2 linked regions of the Homo sapiens genome follow. The protein of the gene in region 2 interacts with the protein of the main gene of each other region in a biochemical or structural test. Each region holds a gene or a part of one and is shown on either strand. Other genes may lie near its edges.

Region 1 (3,827 bases), on a different chromosome or scaffold from region 2:
AAGGAGCAAGAGGAGTTGTGCGTTGATGGAAGTATTCTATATCTCCACAGGGGCAATGTGGTTACAGGGGTGCGCACATTTGTCAAAGTTCATCAAGCTGTACATTTAAAATACGTGCAATTTGGCCGGGCATGGTGGCTTATGCCTGTAATCCCAGCACTTTGGAAGGCCAAGGCAGGAGGAGCATCTGAGGTCAGGAGTTCGAGACCAGCCTGGCCAACATAGTGAAACCCCATCACTATTAAAAATACAAAAATTAGCCAGGTGGTGGCGTGCACCTGTAACCCCAATTACTAAGGAGACTGAGGCATGAGAACTGCTTGAACCTGGGAGGCAGAGGTTGCAGTGAGCTGAGATCACGCCACTGCACTCCAGGGTGACAGGAGGAAACTCTGCCTCAAATAAATAAATAAATAAATAAAAAAGGTGCAATTTACTATACGTAAGCAAAATGTCAATGACAGTGATTTTTCTAAAAAGCAGTTATTCTGGGGAACAGTACTGGACAAGGTAAGGCAGGAGGTCAGTAATTACATTAAACACCTCTTTCTTTCTTCTTTCTAAATGAAATAGAGACAGGATCTTGCTATGTTGCCCAGCCTGGTATCAAACTCTTTCTTGGCCTCAAGGGATCCTCCTGCATTAGCCTCCCCAAGTGCTGAGAGTACACATGTGAGCCACCATGCCCGGCCATGAACACCTTTCTGTTCCGTTTGATTTTAAAACCACGTGCATGTATGAGGGGGATTCAAAAAGTACACGAAAAATGTGCATTATGAAAAAACTATGCATGCATTTCAAAAATTTTTTTTGCACTAAAATAAACTCATACTAACTTGTTATAACATGTCTGAACAAGACCTAGTTTGAGGTACTAAGAAGGATAAGACATCAGTTTGAAAAGAGCCCCTATCAGAGCAACATGAATTCTGCTAAAATGGAAACAACAACAAACAACAAATTCAAGGGGAAGGTTGGGTGGAAGAAGGATGAGATCACTTATGAAAGAAAAGTATATGGGGACGATGCTCCAAAGAAATCAGCTGTTTACAAATGTAACTCATTTTAAGGGACAAGGCCAGGCACAGTGGCTCATGCCTATAATCCCAAAGACTTGGGAGGCAAGGCAGGAGAACTGTTTGGAGACCAAGAGTTAGAGACCAGCTTAGGCAAGATGGCGAAACCCCATCTCTACACAAAATTAAAAAAAAAAAAAATTAGCTGGGCATGGTGGCATGCACCTGTACTCCCAGCTACTGGAGAGGTTGAGGTGGAAGGATCACTTGAGCCCAGGAGTTGGAGGTTGCAGTGAGCTATGATCATGCCACTGCACTCCAGCCTGAGAGACAAAGAACAAGACTCTGTCATTTAAAAAAAATTACGGCCAGGTGCAATGGCTCAAGTCTGTAATCCCAGGACTTGGGGAAGCCGAGGCGGCAGATCACTTGAGGCCAGGGGTTCAAGACCAGCCTGGACAACATGACGAAACCTCATCTCTACTAAAAATACAAAAATTAGCTGGGCGTGGTGGCGCACGTCTGTAATCGAGAGACAGAGGCAAAAGAATCACTTGAACCTGGGAGGTGAAGGTTGCAGTGAGCTGAGATTGTGCTTCTGCACCCCAGCCTGGGCAACAGAGTGAGACCCTTTAAAAAAAAAATCCCTAGTAAGTATATAAAGCAACAAATGTAATACTCAAGGGCACATGTGTTCAAATCTTCACCCCATGGACACATTATTCAACCTCTCTGTACTTCCTTCCTCTGTAAAATGGGAGTATAATAGCTATCTTCTAGGGTTACTTAAGTACTGACTACTAAAGCATCTGTCACATTAGAAATAGTCAAAAACATTAGTTCCCTTCCCCTTTCGTTATATAATTAAGATACAAATGCTATGTATTCTGTTGACCACAAGAGTTCTATGCATCATCTCTTATTTTATCATGTGACTCTTGCCCAAACGCCTTCACATGTGTGTGGTATTTGCGTACCCTTTGTGGCCTGTGTCTTTTGAACGAAAATGATACCTGCTTTAGCTGATAATGAAAGTCAGCAAAGGTTCTCCAACTCATTCCATCACCACAAACACATGTGAAACTTTCATTCTTCATTTATGAACAAAATACTTCACCTACGCTGGAAATAGGTTTATAAAATTTTGAATATAAAAACATGGCCAGGTGCAGTGGCTCACATCTATAATCACAGCACTTTGGGAAGCTGAGGCGAGAGGATCGCTTAAGCCCAGGAGTTTGAGACTAGCATGGGCAACAGAGTGAGACCCCATCTCTAAAAAATAAAAAAACTTATCAAATTATTTAAATATCTCCATGATCATTCTTTATTTTTTTTTGAGACAGTCTCACTCTGTCGCCCAGTCTGGAATGCACTGGTGCAATCTCGGCTCACTGCAACCTCTGCCTCACGGGTTCAAGCAATTATCCTGCCTCAGGCTCTCAAGCAGCAGGGATTACAGGCACACGCCAACACACCCAGCTAATTTTGTATTTTTAGTAGACCAGGGTTTCCCCATGTTGGCCAGGCTGATCTCGAACTCCTGACCTCAAGTGATCCACCTGCCTTGGCCTCCTAAAGTGCTTAGATTACAGGCATGAGCCACTGCGCCTGGCCCATGATCAGTCTTTTTAAAAGTGAAGAACCATTCTTTTCTTTTTTTCTTTTGAGATGGAGTTTTGCTCTTGTTGCTGGAGTGCAATGGTGCGATCTTGGCTTACCGGAACCTCTATCTCCCGGGTTCAAGAGATTCTCCTGCCTCAGCCTCCCAAGTAGCTGGGATTCCAGGCATGCGCCCCCACACCTGGCTAATTTTGTATTTCTAATAGAGACAGAGTTTCTCCATGTTGGCCAAGCTGGTCTCAAACTCCCAATCTCAGGTGATCTGCCTGCCTTGGCTTCCCAAAATGCTGGGATTACAGGCGTGAGCCACTGCGCCTGGCCTAGAAACATTCTTAATTTGTCTTAAAGACACAAGGTAGCAGCTATAAAGTAAATGAAAGCTACAATTTAAAATCACTTCCCCGGTTTCAGCATTCACACATTCCTAATTTATTTAAATATTCACTTGAGTCCAACAATAGTTCTTCCTGTTCCTGTTTTTCCCCCAAGCTGCCTTTCTTCCCCATTCACCTGTCCCTTTCTTCCCACTGCCTCATTCATTCATGCAACTAGCAAGCATTTATTCAGCACCTAAAACTTGCCAGCACTTCTCCAGGTATTGGGGATACAATGCAGAGTAAAATAACCCAGACATGATTGCAGGCCTCATGGAATTTACACAAAGTATTAGGCCAGGCACAGTGGCTCAAGCCTGTGATCCCAGCATACTGGGAGGCCAAGGTGGGTGGATCTCGAGGCCAGGAGTTCAAGACCAGCCTGGCCTACATGGCGAAACCCTGTCTCTACTAAAAATACAAAAATTAGCAGGGTGTGGTGGTGGGCACCTGTAATCCCAGCTTCTAGGGAGGCTAAGACAGGAGAATCGCTTGAACCCGGGAGGCAGAGGTTGCAGTGAGCCGAGAATGTGCCACTGCACTCCAGCATGGGCAACAGAGCAAGACTCTGTCTCAAAACAAACAAACAAACAAACACAATAATTTTAAAATTTTAAAAAGAAACTGATAAATCAACAAACATAAAACTGCAATTATTAATAGGTAACATAAACACTGAGCATTTACTATGTATCAGTGTGCTAAGCACTTTAAATTTAATAACTCACTCCATCCTCCTACTTACCTTATGCAATAGATATCATTGCTCTCATTTTACAGAAAAGAAACAGTTTAGTATCTTGCCTCAAGTCAT
Region 2 (3,827 bases):
CAAATGTCAATAGGCAATGACGTTGCATAGGCAATAACCATGTGGAACTCATTACTCTGAGACAGGAATCTGTAATGATTTTTGGGTCACTCATCCTTTTGAGAATGCTGAAAGATAGGGACAAAAAACTGTTTTTTTTTCCCTTCTTTTTCATAAAAAGGATACACCTGCAGCTGCATACAATATTTATGTTCAAATACAAAGGTTCCAAGGTCCCTGATGTTAAGAACTCCACCATTAACTGAAGTGTAGGTAGAAAATATGACTTAGGTATGTACCTGCCAGTCATACGTATTTGTGAAGAGAAAATGACGGAAGCAATAATAGCATTTACCTTACAGCACTGCTGTTGGCATGAAAGCTACTCTACCTATTCTGTAGAGTATTTAACAATAATCACCAGCTACTAAGTGCCAGGTCCTGCGTTAGGGGTGCAGATGGTATTGAGATCCCTGTTTTACAAACCAAGAGATGGAGATTCAGAGAATAAAGTCAGCTGCCCAAAGGCACAGAGCTAGGGAGTAGCCGAGCTGGCATTCAAGCTCCAGTCTCTCAGGCTTGGAAATCCATACTCCTTCCATTTTGCTAAACAGTTCTTACCTGATGTTCTTTGGGGCTGCTGATGAGTCTGAGTAAGTAGGCCTAGATCATGATCCCAGTCCAGGCTCAGCTGTGTGTAGTACCATGTCATCATGTATGACAAGGTCTGACCCCCCCGACTAGCACAGCAGTCCATCATCATTACGGGGGAAAAAAGAAAGGGACCAGAGGGAGATTCTCAGGCATGCAAGGGGTCCCCTCCCTTCTCCTGAGGACACAATGGTCATCATTAAGTACCTGATCTAGGATATAGTTGCGTTTCTTGCGGGCAGCAATCTGGATGAGGCGGTTGAGGCACTGGGTGGCCTGCTGGATCAGGACATCCCAGCGGCCAGCATAGTTCCGCTGCCGGCGTAGGCCCATCACCTGCGGGCAGGAATTGGTGAGGGGTGAGTGATTTTAGTTGCAGGGCAGCACTCAGTAGGTTGGAGGTGAGTAAGGAGAGTCCAGTGGCTGGCCTTACCCGCATCTTATCCATGATGGCATTGGTACCCAGGATGTTGTACTTCTTGGAAGGGTTGGAGGCTGCATGTTTGATGGCCCATGTGGTCTTGCCAGCAGCAGGCAGGCCCACCATCATCAGAATCTACAAGAACAAGACAGGGAAGGTGTTGCGGCATGGTGGTATGGCACCACTTGGCTCGGTGGTGACTGTGAGTGTGACTCTGGACCTCTGAGCTGTGGCTGCCTCTACAAAGCGGAAGCAGTAATACCATCTACCTCACAGTACTGGTATCGGGATTCAAAAAGATCAGGCTTGTCAGACTCTGAGCACAGTGCCTGGGACAGGGTGAGCATTAAGTCAAGTGCTGGCCAGGCACGGTAGCTCACGCCTATAATCCCAGGACTTTCGGGGGAAAACAAAAACAAAAAACCAAGTGCTGTCATCATTAGCATTTATAGTATTTTGTTTTTTTGAGACAGGGTCTCACTCTATTGCCCAGGCTGGCGTGTAATGGCCCAATTACAGCTCACTGCAGCCTTGAACTCCCAGGCTCAAGCAATCCTTCTACATCAGCCTCCAGAGTAGCTAGAACTACAGATACAAACCATCACACCCAGCTAATCTTTTTCTCTCTTTTTTTGGTAGAAATGAGAGTCTCCTTATGTTGCCCAGACTGGTCTCAAACTCCTATACTCAAGGGATCCTCCTCCCTTCTTGGCCTCCCAAAGTGCTGGAATTATAGGCATTTGCCACCAAACCCAGCCCATTTACAGGATTATGTGACCCATTCCCCGCCCCCTGCAATAGCCCAGGGAAGGCTGTGTACTGGGACTGGCCCCATGGAGTGGGTAGAAGTGGTACAACTTTCTTTAAGTATGAAATAGGAACAGAGCTGCACACACAAGGACATGAATTGTATCTAATCAGTACATTTAGAATTTGGTAAACACAGATGCATCTTAAATGCCCGACTAGGGGGGAGTGGCGAGTTTGTAAGGCCATTAAGAATGACGTTCATTCCCTTGAAGGATTTTTAAAAAAGAAAAAATGATGTTCAAAGAGAGGTTTTTATGTGATGGGATAAAGCTCACAAAATAATGTGAAGTGAAAAGAGCAGGGTATCATAATGCTTATACCATAGAATCTCAATGATAAATGTTTGTGAGCATAAAACAGGCACTTAGACATTAAAAAGAACAGATGAACTCCAAAACTCTGCAAGTAAACTTATTTGTAGATGATGGCATTATGAAAATTTAAATTTTTTACTTCTTAATTTTCTAGAACAAGCATAAATAACTTACACATACAAGAAAAATATTGTTTTAAGAAAAAAGACACTAGTATAGCTCTTGGAATCAAATCTTCCCAAAGGCCATTTATCTTTTGATAGCTCTGGGTGAGAGGTGGAACTTACTCAACCTCCTTCAAGAACACTCGGTGGGCCAGGCTCAGTGGCTAAAAAAGTTAGCCTGGCATGGTGGCATGTACCTGTGGTCCCAGCTACTCGAGAAGCTGAGGTGGGAGGATCACTTGAGCCTGGAAGGTCAAGGCTGCAGTAAGCCGTGATCGCACCACTGCACTCCAGCCTGGGTGACAGAGCGAGACCCTGTCTCTAAAGAAAAAAAAAGAACACTTGGTGGCACAGTGCACTCCCCAAGAAGCGCCTAGTGTCCTTTTCTGCTGTAAGAAAAGCCTCCTTTTCCCCTATTCTGGCCTCACTTAAGAAGAAGATGCAATCTTTCTGAGATTTAGGTAGCCTCTCCGACTTCAACTTAGGTCACACCAACACCCCTCACCTCACACTCAGAGCAGCTTTTCAGCTCTGAGTCCAACCCTGAGGAGCTGGGACAAAGTGGCCACTTGCCCCAAGGCTACTCTCGCAGCAAGTCTGTGTGTGTGTGTGTGTGTGTGTCTCCTCTGTCTTGGCAGCAAGGTGGCCACCAATACATTCTGGCCCCACTCACCTCACATTCTGCCTTGCTCTTTGGTCCAACGGTGCCCCGGATACGCTCACTAAGGGGAAGGTGCTGGATGAAGGTAAACCCCGGGAGGACAGAACAGTAGGGCTCTGCTCTCTGTCCGAAGTTGAACTCCACTGCGCAATTCTTCACCAGGACATGAGGATAGAGGGCCTGACCCCCCAAGGCTTCCTTCTGGATTCGGAAAGCAATGCCCATCCACTTTCCATTCTTGGTAAAAGACAGTTCCACGTCATTTCCACATTCAAAATCCTAGGAGAAAAAGCCAAAGGAATATGATTGCCAACTCTTGCCATAGGCACTGGGAGTCAAATGTGAGGACAGTAGATGCAGGGAGTAGAATGTGGACAGCTTTCCAGATTGAAGTGCATCCTTCCCCAACATACAGGTAAGCTGGGCAGCATCAGTGAACATCTCAGAGAATGTCCAGCCCAAAGTCCTCCTTGCCTAAGACCCCAAAGTTGGTGGATATGAAGCAAGTAAGCAAGAGTTTTTTTTTTTTGTTTTTTTTTTTTTTGAGACAGGGTCTCACCCTGTCCCCCAGGCTGAGTGCAGTGGCACAGCTAGGGCTCACCGCAACCTCAAACTTCCAGGTTCAAGCAATCCTCCCACCTCAGCCTCCTGAGTAGCTGGGACTACAGGCATGTTCCACACCTGGCTAATTTTTAAATTTTTTTGTAGAGACAGGGTCTTGTTATGTTGCCCAGGCTGGTCTTGAAATCCTGGACTCAAGTGATCTTCCCACCTTGGCCTGCCAAACTGTTGGAATTATAGGCTTGAGCCACTGCACCTGTCCTAAA

The links.
Region 1: the proteins of HNRNPUL1 (region 2) and RPA1 form a complex in vitro, tested with the Homo sapiens proteins (one study listed by BioGRID).

Annotation. Positions count from the first base shown.
Region 1 is NC_000017.11:1,832,706-1,836,532, reverse strand, and holds part of RPA1 (replication protein A 70 kDa DNA-binding subunit), read right to left. Parts: intron 1-3,827. UniProt on the Homo sapiens protein: As part of the heterotrimeric replication protein A complex (RPA/RP-A), binds and stabilizes single-stranded DNA intermediates that form during DNA replication or upon DNA stress.
Region 2 is NC_000019.10:41,291,697-41,295,523, reverse strand, and holds part of HNRNPUL1 (heterogeneous nuclear ribonucleoprotein U-like protein 1), read right to left. Parts: intron 3,280-3,827; coding exon 3,013-3,279; intron 1,187-3,012; coding exon 1,064-1,186; intron 967-1,063; coding exon 838-966; intron 1-837.